Regions from separate parts of the Homo sapiens genome. Here region 2 is linked to region 1. A link means that fine-mapping ties the variant in region 1 to the expression of a gene that starts in the linked region. Tissue or cell type: whole blood. Region 1 holds a variant in brackets; the other region holds the start of a gene. All regions are shown on one strand. Distances are from middle to middle.

Evidence for each region. PIP is the estimated chance that this variant, and not a neighbour inherited with it, causes the effect.
Region 2: MBD6 starts here. The variant in region 1 is fine-mapped to the expression of MBD6 in whole blood (TOPMed, PIP above 0.99).

The regions. Positions count from the first base shown.
Region 1 is chr12:57,621,704-57,629,792 of GRCh38, reverse strand. It overlaps B4GALNT1 (beta-1,4-N-acetyl-galactosaminyltransferase 1), which reads left to right. Exons shown (of 11, transcript NM_001478.5): 7 at 647-745; 8 at 890-1,080; 9 at 1,531-1,671; 10 at 1,935-2,175; 11 at 2,832-6,384. The coding sequence ends at 3,049. It overlaps LOC101927583 (a long non-coding RNA gene), which reads left to right and starts at 7,890. Exons shown (of 4, transcript NR_120450.1): 1 at 7,890-8,089. It also overlaps the pseudogene SLC26A10P. The variant G/A (reference allele first, on the strand shown) is at 4,374.
Region 2 is chr12:57,518,930-57,527,007 of GRCh38, reverse strand. MBD6 (methyl-CpG binding domain protein 6) reads right to left here and starts at 4,184. Exons shown (of 13, transcript NM_052897.4): 1 at 3,997-4,184; 2 at 2,916-2,979; 3 at 2,592-2,728; 4 at 2,186-2,288; 5 at 1,893-2,055; 6 at 620-1,660; 7 at 1-442. The coding sequence starts at 2,704. It overlaps DDIT3 (DNA damage inducible transcript 3), which reads left to right and starts at 6,494. Exons shown (of 4, transcript NM_004083.6): 1 at 6,494-6,590. It overlaps LOC128125814, which reads left to right and starts at 6,528. Exons shown (of 2, transcript NM_001414991.1): 1 at 6,528-6,590. The coding sequence starts at 6,528. MIR616 (microRNA 616) reads left to right here and starts at 7,749; the gene lies at 7,749-7,845. RefSeq lists silencers at 3,953-4,352, 6,067-6,526 and enhancers at 4,613-4,752, 3,816-4,775, 4,873-4,942, 5,033-5,142, 4,776-5,736 and 4 more.

The DNA of each region.
Region 1 (8,089 bases):
AAAAGAGGCCTAAAAGCCCTCTTTGCTTCTCCCCAAAGCTGGTTTGTTGCACTAAGTTTGCTTCCACCTTAGGGCCTTTGCACTTTCTATTTTCTCAGCCTGGAATGCTCTTCCCCAGATTTTTGCAGACTGGCTTCTTCTTGTCATTTAGATCTCAGTTCAAATGCCTCCTCTTCACTATCACATTACTTGTTTGTCTTATTTTCCACTCAATACTTACCAGTATCTGAATTTTTTAATTTACTTAGCCTGGCACCAGACTGACTAGGTTGCTATCAGTTTTGTTGCTTAATAGTTGTGTAAATGTGGCAAGTTACTTTTCTGTGTCTCAGCTTTTTTTTCTGTTGTAGGAATCTACTTAATAGGGCTATCATGGGGATAAAATGAGTGCATATATTTAAGGTAATTTTTTAACGGGTCTGGCACATAGTAAGTGCTCAATAAAGATTAGCTTTTACTTAAAATTTTCTTTGTTGTTTTTTCTCCTACCCATTAGAATGTAAGTTCCATAAAGGTAAGAACCTTCTGTTCTTGTCCACCAAGGCCTAGAAAGGTGGGACACAGAGTAGGCACTTAAATATTGATTGGCTGAAAACAGAATGTTATCCCACCCTTCAGGGTCAAATGCCATGTCCTTTCTTCCCAGTCCGGTTCTCCACCGAGGGACATGAGGCTGCTTTCACTATCCGCATAAGACACCCGCCCAACCCTCGGCTGTACCCACCTGGGTCTCTACCCCAGGGAGGTGAGGCTGGTAGGGGCAGGGACATATTAGAACCAGCCTTGGTGGGGAGCAAGTTGGGAGAGGGCAGTCCTGGGAGGGGATATCTACCTGTTCCCCTCTCCCAACCCTCCTTGTCTGCACCCAACCCTGTGCCCCCAATCTCAGCCCAGTACAACATCAGCGCTCTAGTCACGATTGCCACCAAGACCTTCCTCCGTTATGATCGGCTACGGGCTCTCATCACCAGTATCCGCCGCTTCTACCCAACGGTTACCGTGGTCATCGCTGACGACAGCGACAAGCCAGAGCGCGTTAGTGGCCCCTACGTGGAACACTATCTCATGCCCTTCGGCAAGGTGTGCAGCTAGCAGGCTGAACGGCAGGCCAGAGGACTCCCGCAGGGGGTGTGCCCTCAATCTGCAGCCTCCAGGGTAGTGATTCGAGGACCACCTGCCTCAGAATCATGGGGTGCCTGTTAAGCATGAGGATTCCTGGAATGTAAGCTTCGTGGGAGCAGGAAATTCTCTCTGAATTCTTAGAATGGTGCTTAGTGCCTAATGGCATTCAATAAAATAGCTGATGAATGAATAAATAAATGCACACGGAAATTAAACGCATTCTAAGACCACTGACTTGGAACCTCTGTGGGGATCTGCATTTCTTTTACCTAGCTCCTGGCCTTTCGAAAGCACTCAAAAGTCTGGAGAAGAATACAAGCTGAGAAGGGTCGGGGGAGAGAAAGAAAGGTGGCAGAGGGCCATGTCCTATTTCTGCAGCCTCCCCAACCACACACACCTTTCTGCCAGGGCTGGTTCGCAGGCCGGAACCTGGCCGTGTCTCAAGTAACCACCAAGTACGTGCTGTGGGTGGACGACGACTTCGTCTTCACGGCGCGGACGCGGCTGGAGAGGCTTGTGGACGTGCTGGAGCGGACGCCGCTGGACCTGGTAGGGCAGGGGCTGCAGGATGTGGGGGTGGAGAAGGGCCTTGAACAGGCTAAGGCCACAGCGGGGGCGCTGCGGCCAGGAACGGCCAGCCCTAGGACAAAGAGAGAACCACGAAGTGGGGCCTGGGAACTGTCTGGGTCCTGCAGGGGTGAAGCGGAAGAGGATGGGGCAGGGGTACCCCCGAAGGCACCGGAGCGCAGACCTTGACCCCTTCGGGTCCCCTATCCCAGGCCCGCCTGGAGGCAACCTCCCTCTCCCTGCAGGTGGGGGGCGCGGTGCGCGAGATCTCCGGCTTTGCCACCACTTATCGGCAGCTGCTGAGCGTGGAGCCCGGCGCCCCAGGCCTCGGGAACTGCCTCCGGCAAAGGCGCGGCTTCCACCACGAGCTCGTCGGCTTCCCAGGCTGCGTGGTCACCGACGGCGTGGTTAACTTCTTCCTGGCGCGGACTGACAAGGTGCGCGAGGTCGGTTTCGACCCCCGCCTCAGCCGCGTGGCTCATCTGGGTGAGTGGCACCCCCTCCCGGTCGACCCTGGCAGGAGCCCCACGGGGAGCTGGCGCACGGTCACGCGCCTCTCCTCCTAGGCTGCACCCGCGCCCAGCCGCCAGCGGGAACCCCAGAACAGTTCTGCAGTGATTTACCAAGACCTGCACCTGGGCGAGAGACAGCTCCCACCCTCTCCCAGCCCCGCATACTCTTTTTTTTTTTTTATAAATATATATATTTTTTGTTATACTTTAAGTTCTAGGGTACATGTGCACAACGTGCAGGTTTGTTACATGTGTATACATGTGCCATGTTGAATCTCCATTCCCAGCACAGCCGCTGGGCCCCCATAAGCTTCCCCATCACTGTTCCCGCCACCCCTGCTCTACTCCCAGGGCTTCCCCTAGTTCAGACCACAGTCGGTGCAACCCATCTGGCGTTTATTTAACCTCTGGGAGTAGGGGTAGGTTTTTCGATTTTCAAAGCACAAGTATATTGACTCCATTTACACAAGAGTAAGACTGAGACCCAGGGAGTTGATTTACATGCTCAGGGTCCTTAGAAACAAGCCTTTGCACACACACTTTCCACACCCTAAATTTGAGAGTTCTCCCTTACCAGTCGGCCTTCTGCACCCTCAGGATCCCTCACTGTGTACTCCCCTCCACCCCCAGAATTCTTCTTGGATGGGCTTGGTTCCCTTCGGGTTGGCTCCTGCTCCGACGTCGTGGTGGATCATGCATCCAAACTGAAGCTGCCTTGGACATCAAGGGATGCCGGAGCAGAGACTTACGCCCGGTACCGTTACCCAGGATCACTGGACGAGAGCCAGATGGCCAAACACCGGCTGCTCTTCTTCAAACACCGGCTGCAGTGCATGACCTCCCAGTGATGGCCCGCTGGGGATTTCTGACTGTCAGGCTGGGCCTGCCTCCTTGTCCCTGCCAGGAATTTCCAACAAACCCCACCACCCTGTGAGCACTCTACTGGCTGTCCCTGAGCCTCTAGTTCCTCACTCTTCCTTTTCAGAACCTGATGCCCAGTAGGGGTTGTCCTGGTGACACCCCTCCTTTTTCCAGTGCCCAGAGGCCTGGTGGAGCCATAACCTCTCCCACAGCCAGTGCCAAGTCCTCCCCCTGCCCATTCTCATGGGGCAGGAAATGGGGGGATCACTTTCCAAGTGCCAAAGAGCCCAGAGGGACTCTAAGAACCTAAGGTGGAAACACTGTCCTCTCATCTTGGGACCGAGGGGGTGGGGAAGTTCCCCAACACATAATCCCAAGACTGTGCCCCTCATCTGCATCTTCAGATCCAGTACTCTGTGTACCTGCTCCAGCCCCACCCCCACAGAGAGAACTTGTGGCTCTGGGGCTGGGGTGAGGGCTGGTGGTTGGTGAAAGCCATTCTTAGTTGTGTCTCTGCAATGCTGTGGGCACAAAAGAAGGGGCACCAGAGTCCCTGTGCAAACACCTAGACTCACTTCATGGATTCCAAAGCTCTCAGCTTCATTTTATTAGTTACGTTAGGTAAGGGGGTTCAAGGGTCATGGTCCTCATCACACACATGTCATCAGGGCCCTCTGCACTCCACATGATGAGGTCAGACCCACACGGTGCAAATCTTTGGGTCAGTGAGCTCCTGGAGAAGAGAGGAGACATGTCAGGAATAGATTAGGCACCCCTCTTCCTTAATGAAATGTGGCAGTCCTCTCAGGGGTACCCCACCTACTTAGGGATCTGAGTTCTTCAGTTCCTCACCCATAGCTCAGCCCGGGCTCCCTGATTTGGTCTTCAATCTACTATTCATTCCGTCCCCACCCTTTTCTTCTTGATCTTCCTCAGACCCTTTCCCAAACCCCTCTCCCTGGGTCTCCAGCCACTTACCCCTGCCTCACTTGCCGCAGCCCAGTGCCTCCTGGCTCCCGCTCCTGGTGCTACTGCCCCTTAACAGGCTCCCCAGGGCATAAGCAGCTGCATCCTGCACACTCACAAACAGCTGATCTGGAGTCACCCTGTCCAGGAGTCCTACCCGGGTCAGTGTCCCCTGCACCAAGGCTATGTGGGGAGGGTGTCAGACTCTGAGACCCTAAGTCCACACCGGGTCCTTTTCCCTACCGCAGGTGTCCAGTCATTGCCCAGGCACTGGGCCCCGCTCTTCTCCACACATCTCACCATTACACTGAGCCAGGAGGAGGCGGATCCTAGCATCTCGACATC[G/A]GCTGGCCAGCTGCAGGGATGGGGCAAAGGGGTTAAGTCCCAGATCAGAGGGTATGAGTGAGATGCTAAGGGGTTTCTCCTCAACCTACCCTCTCCCTCACCTGCACCACTTCTCTGGCCCCAGCAGCATCTGCAAAGGTGACACCACTGAAGTCTAGGACCACCACCCTGACAGGCTCAGCAACTAGAATGGGAGAAGACAGGAGTACCCAGGTGTCACCATGCAACATGCCCAAATCTTCCTTCTTGTCACCCCATCTCACCTGCAACCATTGGGCCATCTGGCTTTGAAGTCTCCTATAAGTAAAGAAGGGCAGTCACCACTCCCGAAACACAGCATGAACATGCACCCCTTGAGCACAAGGATCCCCCTCAGAACACCCACCTGCCTCCCACTCCCTGAGGATCCACATCCCTCCTAAACCAAGCTCCTTCACCTTTTCTCCTTCTCCGAGCCCCAGGTGCCACTCCAGGTTGCAGCGAAACTGCCCACGGGTCCCAAAGTACAGTGGTGTTGGATAGCTCAGGATGCAGAGCCCCGGGACCTGGAGGAGCTAAGAGGTCAAAGGATCAGAGAAATGTCTGGGGCTAATCTTCCCTTCCTTCTTTGGCTGCAGCCCACCCACCCTGGGGCTTCCTCTGAGTGGTCTGTAGAGCTCTGTCCCCTCAGCCTGTCCAAGTGCCAGGCACTACACCCTAGGGAAGAAGGTGGGGCCAGATTTCCAGCTTAGCCTGGCCTGGCTGGAGAGTCACCCCAAGCACCTCATTCTCTTCCCCTGCCCCGACCTCAACTCCACTCATCTCTATGCCCACCTCCGGGTGCGGCAGACCACAGTCATCATGGAGAAGACCACACCCACAGCCAGGCCCAAATCCACACTCAGGGTCACTACTGCCACCCAGGTGACCATCCACACAGCCTGCAGGATAGGGATAGGGGTGGATTGCCCAAAAGAAAAGCCAGGCCATCACTGCTGGGTAAAGAGATCCAGGGCAGTGACTACCAAGGCAAGTGATGGGGAGAGATGATCCAGGAAGAAGTGGAAAGCATGACAGAAGGAAACAACAGGGTTGATTCAATGGGACACACACCAAATGTAATGACCCGCACCAGTTGGGAAGTTACAAATATTCAGGCCAAAGGGGTTCAAACCCCATCCTTTCCCTTGCCTGTGAGTAAAGCATACTAGGAGTTATGTTTGCTGGGGGAGTGGGTGGGTTGCAGAACTTAAGACCAGGACAATTAGGTTTGGTTCAGGGCAGAGGCTGGGGATGCTAACAAGATGAGAGGGGGCAATCTGGGGGTAATGGCATTTCTCACAAAGTCCACTCGGCTGATGTGCCATAGTTGTGGAAGTTCCTGCATCTGGCAGAACACCTGGCGCATGCTGGAGATGTTGATGCAAGCCAGGACAGCCTTGAGGCAGAGGAGGTGGGCTGACTACCTCGATGTCCTGGAATACAGCTACCCCTCCCAGCCATGCTCATGCCTCCTCTGCTCATTACCTTGGGCAGATAGTAAAAGAAGGGCCCCAGCCACAGCAGCACCGACAGGACCACTGTGCAGGAGAAGAGGCCTGCCAGCTAGAGAAAAGGAGGAACAGGAGCAAAAAAGGAAGAGAGCCTCCCACCCCCACATGAGAGCTGGTCTTCCTGCCCACTCTGCCTAATCTTCCTCGGAAGTCTCCCTTCTCCCAAATCTCCTTCCACACAACCCCCTTCTTAATATTCTGCCATTCACATCTAACCCTCCCGCTCCCCCCAATTAATTAAATGCCCATTATTCACCAGTCTCCTTGTAGATGTCCATTGTTCAAGTTCCCCAGTTTTGTAGCCCACCTCCACCTTAAAAGCCACTGTTGGGTTACCCTATAAGCAGGGTATATGTGTTTAGGGCACCAGCAAAGTAAGGGAAACCAAAAATATTAGGGGGAGACTTTGATATGTGATATTCCTTTTAAAAGACAATGTCATTGTGTGAAAAAAATAAGAATTTTATCTCTTAAGTTTATTTTATAGTTTTGTGTTTTTATTTTGAACCACACCTGGGGCACCATAAACTTTTTCAGCGCTTAGAGCCTACAAAGGTCTTACTGGAACATTGTTATCTTCCATCTCTCCTATCTATAATTCCATCCCCTCAGTCACCCTTTCTCACAGATCCCCAGTCTTCTCTATATAGGTGCCACCTGGGATTCTAGCCATCTTCCACCTGTTTCTCCACCACCGCCACCTTGCCTGGATGGCCCATCCTTTCTCCTCATCCAAGGATGCCCTCTTACCTGTGTTTTCCCACCAGCATCCACCAGTAGATTGGTGGTGGCCAGCGTAGCCGAGTTGGGAAAGCAAGAGAAGAGGGAGGAGATGAGGTTGGAGGCACCATGTGCCAGGAACTCCTGGAGGGATACAGTGAGATGAAGTGGGAGAGACAAAGGCATGGTGGGAAGTCAAATGAGAGGGTTGGGGTCCACAGTCAGAGTCCCACCTGGTTGGAGTCAATAGTGTAGCTATACTTGTCTGCATGGATGGAGGCCAGGGAGGCAGACACCGCAAAACTAACCAGTGCAATGGGCAGCGAGTCAGCCAGAATCCTGGGCAGCTCAGCCAGGTTGGGGAGGAGGGGTTGGGGAAATCTGGAGAGGGAGGGATCCATGGTGAGGAGGGGTTAGGTGCTTCAGTGAGATAAGGAAGGCAGAGAAAATGGGGGGTGGAGATAAGAGGGAGTGTTGGGTGGGAGAGGTGGGAGAAGAGAAAGCTGGCATCTTTTCATTCTCTTACCCTCCAGGCAACAGCCCCACTATCTGGACTTGGTATCTTGTGTCCACAGAAGAGGTGAAGCAGAGCACGGAGGCCAGAAGCACCTGAAAAAGAGAGCAAAATGAAGGCATGGGAAGAGATGGGGTCCCTGGCAGAAGCTAGAAGGGGCTGACCATGAGAGAGGACCATAATGCAGGCCTAGCTGGCTGCAGGAGCCCAGCACCTGGGGGAGCGGGGATGTGTTTGGGATGAGGGCCTGACAACTGATTTGTAGTGTAGAGCTGGGAAAGAGGGATGACATATGCCTGAGGCCACAGAGCCTGGAGCCGTGGAAGTAAGAGGACGCTTCTGTGAAGGATGGTGGATATGAAGAGATGCCACTGAGCCTTCCAAAGAGGGAAGCTGGACGATATCTAGTGATATACTGGCATCTGTGGAGACGCGGAACGTTTATTTAGTTGGGGAGAGAGAGAAATGTCGGTGGAGGGTGGAGAGGGAGATGCACTGTGAATTACAGGGAAGGACCCTGGTGAGGACAGATGTCAGAGAAGGTGCTGTGACCAGCAAGACCTCAAGGGAGCGCTGTAGGATGGCAGAGGAAACTCCAAGAGGTCTAGGGGGTGCTCCGTGAGAGACGTGGGACAGTGTCGAGGGGGGCTGTGGAAGGTCAAAGCGTCCTTCTGCAGGAGGCCAAGGAAAGTGTGAGCCGGCCCTCTGTTCCGTGGCCTCTCTGCACTCCACCAGGGGGCGGCAGCGGCCAGTTCCCACAGGACCGCAGGGTCTGCGCGGGCAGGGGGCCGGCGCGCACGGCCATCCTCACCAAGACGACTTCCCCCGGGATCGGCGTGGGTAGCCGGTCTCGGAATCTCACGTTCAATTCCTTGACCGGCACGAGCAGCGCCAGGCTGAGCGCGGAGATGGTCAGTTCGGCCGGACTGCTCCGAGGCAGCGCAGTCAGC
Region 2 (8,078 bases), 100 kb after region 1:
AGGTTGCTGGGAGGTGCTGAAGGAGGTGGAAGAAGGTCTGAGGGTGGTGGAGGAAGCAAGGAAGCCACCAAAAGCGAAGGCCCTTCAGGCTCTCCTGGGGCTAGGGGAGGACCAGGTCCTCCTGGTGGGGGTAGCAGGGGCTCAGGGGGAGGTTGTCCTCCTCCCCCAGTCAGCACACCAAATAAACTGTGGTTGAGCAATGGAGAAGGTGGAGGCTGCCCCAGACTCAGAGGGAGAGGCAAGGCCCCAAGCATCCCAGGGAAGCCAGCTCCACTCAGTGCCAGGCCCTGCTCAGGGCTGGGGAAAGGGAAAGCCTCTCCACCAGCCAGGGGAGGCAGAGGGCAGGCCGGGCCTGCCCCCATCCCCAGTCCTTCGGATGGGCTTTGAAGCACAGGGCTGGGGACTACTGGGGCTTTGGAGGCAGCTGGTGGGGCAGGGGCACCTGTAAAAGAGGAGAGAAATTCAGCTCAAGGGAGGCCCTTTCTCCCATCATCCAAAGAAGCCAACCTCCCTGCCCCCAACCCAGAAAACCCTCAAAGAGCTCTCTGAACATTCCCCTAAATGCCTTGGCTGCCTCTTTCCAGCCAGGATGAGGAAGGGCTCCACAATACTCACATACCTGGCACACTGCTGAGGCTGCCACTGGTGGTCCCAGGCAGGGAGGGCTGGATGGGGTGCCTGGGCTGGGGAGGGCTCCCTGAGGAGAGGGTTGGGGGAGGAGGAAGGTGTGCATCTGACCCCAAAAGGTTAAAGCTTCCATCAGAGTGGGAAGGGCCAGGGGTGGGGAGTCCCAGCAGGGACAGCACAGAAGGGAGAATTGGTTGGGATGGCTCCGGGAGAGAAAAGGGTTGGGGGACAGGAGCAGGGGCCCGAGGACGGCTCCGTCTAGGGGTTTGAGGGCCTCTCCCTTCTAGCAATCGAAATACAGTAGGGGGTCTGCGGGGACGACGCTGAGAGGGACGAAGTGATGAGGAGTGGGAAGCTGAGGGTGCCTGGGCACGGGGCCTTCGGCCCTGTAAAGTGCTGGGAGGGGGTAGTGGGGGATGCTGTGCCTTGGCCGCTGCAGAGAGTAGGCTGCTAGCAAGGAAGGGGGGTGCCCCAGGCCCCTCCACCGTGGGGGCCCCTCCCAGGGGCCCCAGGACCAGGGGCAGGTGCATAGTGGCTGAAGACACTGGTGGCTGAGAGGCAGGACCAGGGTGGGCGGGGAGATTATTGCTCGGGGGCAGGGGAGGGGGTGTTAAGGCATCACTACAGTGGAAGAGAGGAGGGTCTGAAGGTGGTGAGGAGGAGGCATGAGGGGCCGGAGGAGAGCCCAGGTCAGAGGGCACCAGGCTGGATCTGAGGGCAGCTCCCCAGTTGTATGAGGGAGCATTGAGGCTGATAGCAGGTGGAGGAGGTGGGGCTGGAGAGGGGGCATTGCCCCTTGGGAGGAAACGGGGGCTGCTACTGCCCCCAGAAGGGACTGGGTCAGCAAGCCTTGGGGGGAAAAGCCCCCCAGGGCCTGCTAGAGTGGGAAAGGCCTGGGAAACTGAGGGTGGTTCTGGGGGAAGGGAGCCAGGACCCCCATTAAGTGGAGTTGTAGGAGGAACTCGACAGGGAGGGCGGGCAGAGGGGGGCCCTGGGGACACAGTGTGGAACATTTGGGGGCTCGCTCCCTCTCCTGCAATAAATGAAAAATGAAGGGTCAGCCTGTGGCTCCCCTTCCAAAAACTCTTTTGTCTTCTCTAGTCCCATCTCCCACAAGTTCCCAACCTCCCTGTGCCCTCCTTTCAACATGCAGCTCCCCACCCACTCCCCTTTCTCTTTGCTCCCTCTCAAGGAACTCCTCCCACCACCAGCCTTCCAAGCCCTTAGGTTTTCCTCGGTCTTCTGTAAAGTGGCAGAAGACTCACCAGGAGAAGAGTGTGAGCAGGTGGTCTCCATGCTGCGGTACAGAGTTGCCATAGCAACAGCTTTCCGCCGGTGGTTGCACAGCTTGGTCATGTCCTCCTCTGATGCTGGCCCCACCCCAGCCCCACCCGGGGTCACCGGGGCCAAAGGGTCAAAGTTGAAAACCTGTAAGGTGGAAAGCAAGGACAGGGACCCTGAGGGGCTGGAACCTGTGAGAAGGGCTACCTCAGTCAGTGATTTGCATTAAGACTTTTAGCTTATCTCTGTACTCTCAGGCGCCCCTCACCACTCTGACCTTGGGGACATTAAGTGGACACTCCAGACCGCACTTGCAGGTCCCATCGCTGAGGAGGTAGCTCCGGGTTTGCTCCAAGGAAGACAGCTCTGTGCCACTTGGACTGCGAGAGGACAGGGTCAGAGGACATGGGGTTAGCTGGCAGCGAATCAGGCAATACTCCTAAAGCACAGTGCTTAAGTTACAGATCCTCCTAGAAGAACAGAGGATAAGGAATGTGGGAAGACACAGAAAAAGGGAGAATGGATTCAAAGGCCCAGAGCTACAGAAAGCAAAAAGGCTGAGGAAGGAAGGGGAAGAGAGGAGAGCAATCGGGTACCAGAGAGCTGAGCTGAGAGAAGAAACGGAAGAAAGAAAACCTGGGCAACTGGAGTGGCAGAGCTTGGGGACCTGTGAAGATCCGTACCTGATGTAGAGCACAGCACCCTCTCGCACACAGCGCTGCCAGCCGATGGGGACAGATGTGGCCACAGGGCCCCCAGCTCTGTCTGCTCCACTGCTCTCATTGCCCCCATTCATTGTGTGTAATCAGCTCCCGCGTGCCTGATAACACAGACATCCATGTAGGCACTAGGAGGATTAAACTGAGCGAAGTACCTGAGAGAGGACTCCAGGAAGGCAAAGGTTGTGGGGAGACCCAAGAAAACTCAGGGGAAGCCCCAGAGGAGCAAGGGGAACCCCTCAGCTGGGAGGGAGACTGAGGAGTCCTCTGCCGTATCACCACAGCTACCTGAACATCTCTGCAAACATTGTGGGGTCCAGTCTAAAGCCGGGGCCACCAGCTTAGCCCACACCTGCAACGCAAGTAGAGAGATGGGACTGTCAGGAGTCTGCCCAACTCTAAAGAGCAGCACAGCCCAGCACCCTCTCAAAAGAAAGATCCTTAACAATGTGAGGCAAGCACCTATAAAGATCTCGGGGATCTGCTGGCTTAGTCTACAACCATCCTTTCCAAGCCCAGTCCCTAGGGACCAGAGGGTCAGAACCTCAGCTCCCTGGGACCAAGAAAGTCTAGCCCAATTCTTAGGCATATGAAGGGCAAGGCCTCCCTCCATTCGGAGTAGAAGACTTCAACCAGGAGTATGGGCACATTCCCATAATGCTAGGCCACTAGGAAGTTTCCCAGAGTGTCTGGCTCCTGTTGTTCTCTACCCAGGAAGATGATATAAAAAGTACAGATTGCCCCACAGGTCACCAGGCAATTGCCCAACTGCCCGCTGGGGTGGTACCAGCAGAACTCCCCCCATGCCTGCTCCATCAGACAATCGCTGATATAGTTCATTCGGGTCTTAAGAGGTGAGGATCACAGCTCAGTCTTCTCCCAGGATCCTGGGAAGCTCCTGATTTTCCCTCAAGCCTACGGCAAAGGGATTCAGAACCTCCTATTCCACTGGCTTCCGATTATCTCCAAGAGAGCCTGTCCTCCGATAGAAGGGGAAGCCCCTCCAACCTGCAGGTATCCTCCCCAGCCTCACCATTGCTCCCACCCCACACTGGCGGCTTCCAAACTTTCCCTCTCACAACAAGGCGCCCTGTCACCCAGACTGCTTCCCTCAGCTTGAGGAGGAGGGGAAGGCGCACGAAGTAGGAAGGAACTTGGGGAGAGGGCGGGCGGAGGGTGGGCGAAGCACTGAGGGGAGGGCGGTGAGGAAGGCAGAAGTCTGGCAGTGAGAGGGAGAAGCGGCGGGGGCAGGTGAGGGCGGGGGAGTGGGGATGGGGCCGGGGAAAGGGGCCGAGAGGACGCGGAGGGGGCAGAGGGTAGGGACGGGAGGGGGAGGGGCAGGGTGGGGGGGGCCGGGCCCCGCACTCACCGCGGCCCATGGTTCGGCCGGCCCCGCCCTGCGCAGTCGCGGCCCAGAGGGTGAGTGGGAGGGGGTGGGAGGAGGGTCGGTGGAGCCCGAGCCTCCGGTACGGCCCCGGCCGGTCCTAGCAGGAAGCGCCGCTGCCGCCGCCGCGGATCACCGAGCGGCCTCCCGCGCATGCGCCATGGGGGCCAGGGGCAGCCCTGGGGATTCCGTTCCCAGAAGGCACTGCGCAGGCTGCTGCCGCTGCCGCCGCCGCCGTCGCTGCCGCAGCCGCCGCCGCAGGAGCCGCCGCCTCCGCCGCTGCCCGGACGGGAGAGGGGCGGGGCCGGGCCCCCGCCCAGCGGACAGCGACGAGCCAACTGGAGGGGCTGCAGTGCGCATGCGGGAGCGCGCCTACCCCTCCCCCACAACCCCCCATTAATCCCCAAGAGAACAAACACCCCACGCGGCCCCCCCGCCCTCCGCGGAAGGATCTGCGCCTCTTCCCAGGCCACTGGTGGCCAATCCCAGCCCTCCTCAGGGAGGGGCCCCTTCCAAAGCCACAGTCTGTTGCGGGAACCAGGAATGCCAGGTCCGGGAGGGGCCAGGCCCCGAAAGATGAAAGTCGCGACTTGCCCTGCCCCGCCCCAAAGGCTTCCCGGGTAGTGTGCTGGGACTTGACCCGCCTCCCCAGGTCAACATGTCACAACACGACCTCAGCCTGTCAAGTCACATGACCTCTGCCTGTCACTGACAACCTGGTCTGTCTTTAGGCCAGGGGAGACCATCTGGTCCACCCTCCACACTACCCCCATTTTCAGAGAGGAAATGGAGGTGTGGAGCAGCGGAGCAGCCTAACCAAAGACCTGTCATTGCCACACCACTCCAGTCACAACCGGCCTTGTGACAGTTTCTACTTAAACTCTGGCTGCCCCCATGAGGGTATGACAGGATATGTAACAGGCCACCACATGGCCTCTGTTTTCAAGGCACAAGAAAAATACTTTGCATTCTGGGTGGTGCGTTTTACTTTTGGTCAAGTTGCCTCCAAGTTCATGGTTCTCATTTTACCTTCACAACTTTTATCTTTAATTTACAAACAAGGACGGTAAGATCCCTTGGCAAGTGATGGGGAGTTGAGTCTAAAATCGCGGCTCCGGTCTCCCCAGTCCAGGGCAGTCCTGCGCTGAAGTGCACTCACACGTCCCGGGATGAGACTCCGCTGTAAATCTCGACCCGAACACCTAGGAGGCAGGCCTGTGCCGCGCTCCTCACACAGGGAGTCACAGGACTTGCTGTCTGGTACAGCAAGAGAGGGTCTTGGAGAAAGCCATAGGAGTACCGTGGGGGAAAATAGGTGGCCAAACAGAATCGGGTCCACTGGGCAAAATACATGACTTCTGGCAGGCTGAGGGCTTACCAACTACAAGGTAAAAGTCAAGGGCGCTGTTCTGAGAGAAGCGGAAAATGACTACCAAGGGATTCCAGTACCTCGGCCCCTTTTGGGAGATTTACGGGGCTAGAACAGGAGACCACCCCCGTTTTTTTGTTTGTTTGTTTTGTTTTTTGTTTTTGGTGAAACGTAGTCTCGCTCTGTCACCCAGGCTGGAGTGCAGTGGCGCGATCTCGGTCACTGCAACATCCGCCTCCAGGGTTCAAGCGATTCTTCTGCCTCTGCCTCCAGAGTAGCTGGGATTACAGGCGCGCATCACCACACCCGGCTAATTTTTGTATTTTTAGTAGAGACGGGGTTTCACCATGTTGGTCAGGCTGATCTCGAACTCCTGACCTCAAGTGATCCGCTCTCCTCAGCCTCCCAAAGTGCTGGGATTACAGGCGTAAGCCACTGAGCCCGGCCAGGAGACCTCTTTAAGAAGACTCGAGATGTCGACAATCCCAGTGGATGGATACCAACTTTAAAAAGAAAAGTTCAAAAGGCCTATGTGCCCATTAGCTGGGAGGGGCCAAGAAATATGGGAGTCCCTTATAGTGGGGGTAAAACGGCGGGTAAAGCTAGGTGGGCGGAACAGCAGCTTCTGGGGGAGACAAGCGGCAAAGAGGCTCACGACCGACTAGGGGCGACCAAGGCTGATAGCCGTTGGGGCCGTTGGGCGCCGGGAGCTGGCGCCCCGCCCTCTCTCCTCTCCCCCACCCTCCGCACCTCCCACCACCCTCGGTGTCCCCTGCGCGTGCGCGTGCAGACACCGGTTGCCAAACATTGCATCATCCCCGCCCCCCTTTCCTCCCCTCCCCCCCCGCTACACTCCCCTCCGCGCGCGCGCATGACTCACCCACCTCCTCCGTGAAGCCTCGTGACCCAAAGCCACTTCCGGGTCCGACACTACGTCGACCCCCTAGCGAGAGGGAGCGACGGGGGCGGTGCCGCGGGGCTCCTGAGTGGCGGATGCGAGGGACGGGGCGGGGCCAATGCCGGCGTGCCACTTTCTGATTGGTAGGTTTTGGGGTCCCGCCCCTGAGAGGAGGGCAAGGCCATGGTAAAAGATTACAGCCAGGCGCTCCCGAGGTCAGAGACTTAAGTCTAAGGCACTGAGCGTATCATGTTAAAGATGAGCGGGTGGCAGCGACAGAGCCAAAATCAGAGCTGGAACCTGAGGAGAGAGGCGAGTACTGATTCCCATCTACCTTTTACCCTCCCGTCTCCTCAAAGTTGGGGCGTCCGCTCTTTAGGATCGGCCTCACTCCTCCACAGTGAAGTTAGGGACCGTCCGAGAGAGGAATGGGGAGAGTCCCTTATTCTGGGGTGGTGCTTACAAACCCCTATTGCTTCGGACGACGGCGTCTCTCCACCCCTGCCCGGAGCCGGAACACGGGCCCTGCTCTGTGCTGCTGGGCAAAGGGACCTCGGTTGCCCTTGGGAAATTCATTCTTTCCCGTAGCCAACTTCAGGCCTCATCGTTAGGCCTGTCCGCGGGGAGGCAGGTCAGCAGGACACACCCCCGCTCTAAGACTGGGTGACCATCGCTCAGGCCGTTTCCGCCGCTTCGCCACCAGCGGGCCTTCTCCCTACCCCACCCCCAATTCTGTCTCAGTCTCAGTGCCTCTGGTGTCAGCATGGCCACCTTGGTAGCTGGGGCTACTGGACCCTGCAGCGGATAGGGGAACCTTGAGGAGACACAAGCCTTTGGGAGGGGTGCCGATGGACAGGGAGTGGTGTGTTTTCCTTTTGCCGTAGAGGTCTCTGGGCCTCCTGCACAAGAGAGCAGCCTGGATCTCTTAAGTGTAGGAGGCCATTTGGGGTCTCCCCAGGGTATTGTCCTTCCCTCGGGATTAGTCCCTGCCTCTTTAACCCGGTCCTGTCTCCCAGCTAATCTCTGTGTAACCATTGCATCAGGCCAGCCCCGTTTGGCTCTGCAGCCTTCTGACCTGAGGCTCTACTGCTGATGAAAGCCAAGTCCCACACACTGGAAGGCAAGGGAGGGTTCCCCAGGGAGGACAGCCCTGCAGAGAAATACTTCGGGCAATATTGCATCTCTAGCCCCTAGGGATCAGCAGCTGCCACTCTGCTTCTGCCCCTTCCCTATAAGAGAGACTGGGGGGAGTTTATCCATTCATTCTTAACAAATACTTAATGAGGACCTACTGTGTGCCACACAGTTTGGGGCTCAGGGTACATCCTTGAGCAAGAGGAAAAAATCATCTCAGTGGGAGGCCTACAGTAAACAAAATATAAGTGCCACGGAGAAAGCTAAAGCAGAGAAAGGAATGGAGAATGTTCAGGATGGAGGTCAGAGTGTTACATCAGGTGGTCAGGAATTACCTTAGGTAATTCCTCCACTCAAAACCCTTCAGTGACTTCCATGACATGAAATAGGAAGTCATTGGAGGGTTTGAGCAGAGGAATGACCTGTTTTAAAAGGCTCACTCAGGCTGCTGTATGGTGAATAGAGTTGCGGAGGGGTGGCAAGAGAAGAAATGGGAAGACCTTCTGCAGTCAGAAAGTTTCTGCAGTAATTTAGAGATGGTAGTGAATTGATCTAGATTGGAAACAATGGAATTAGAAGTGTTTAGATTCTTCTAAGCAAAGGTTTTAAAAACTCATTTTTAAAGAATGAGTTAAGGGCCGGGCATGGTGGCTCACACCTGTAATC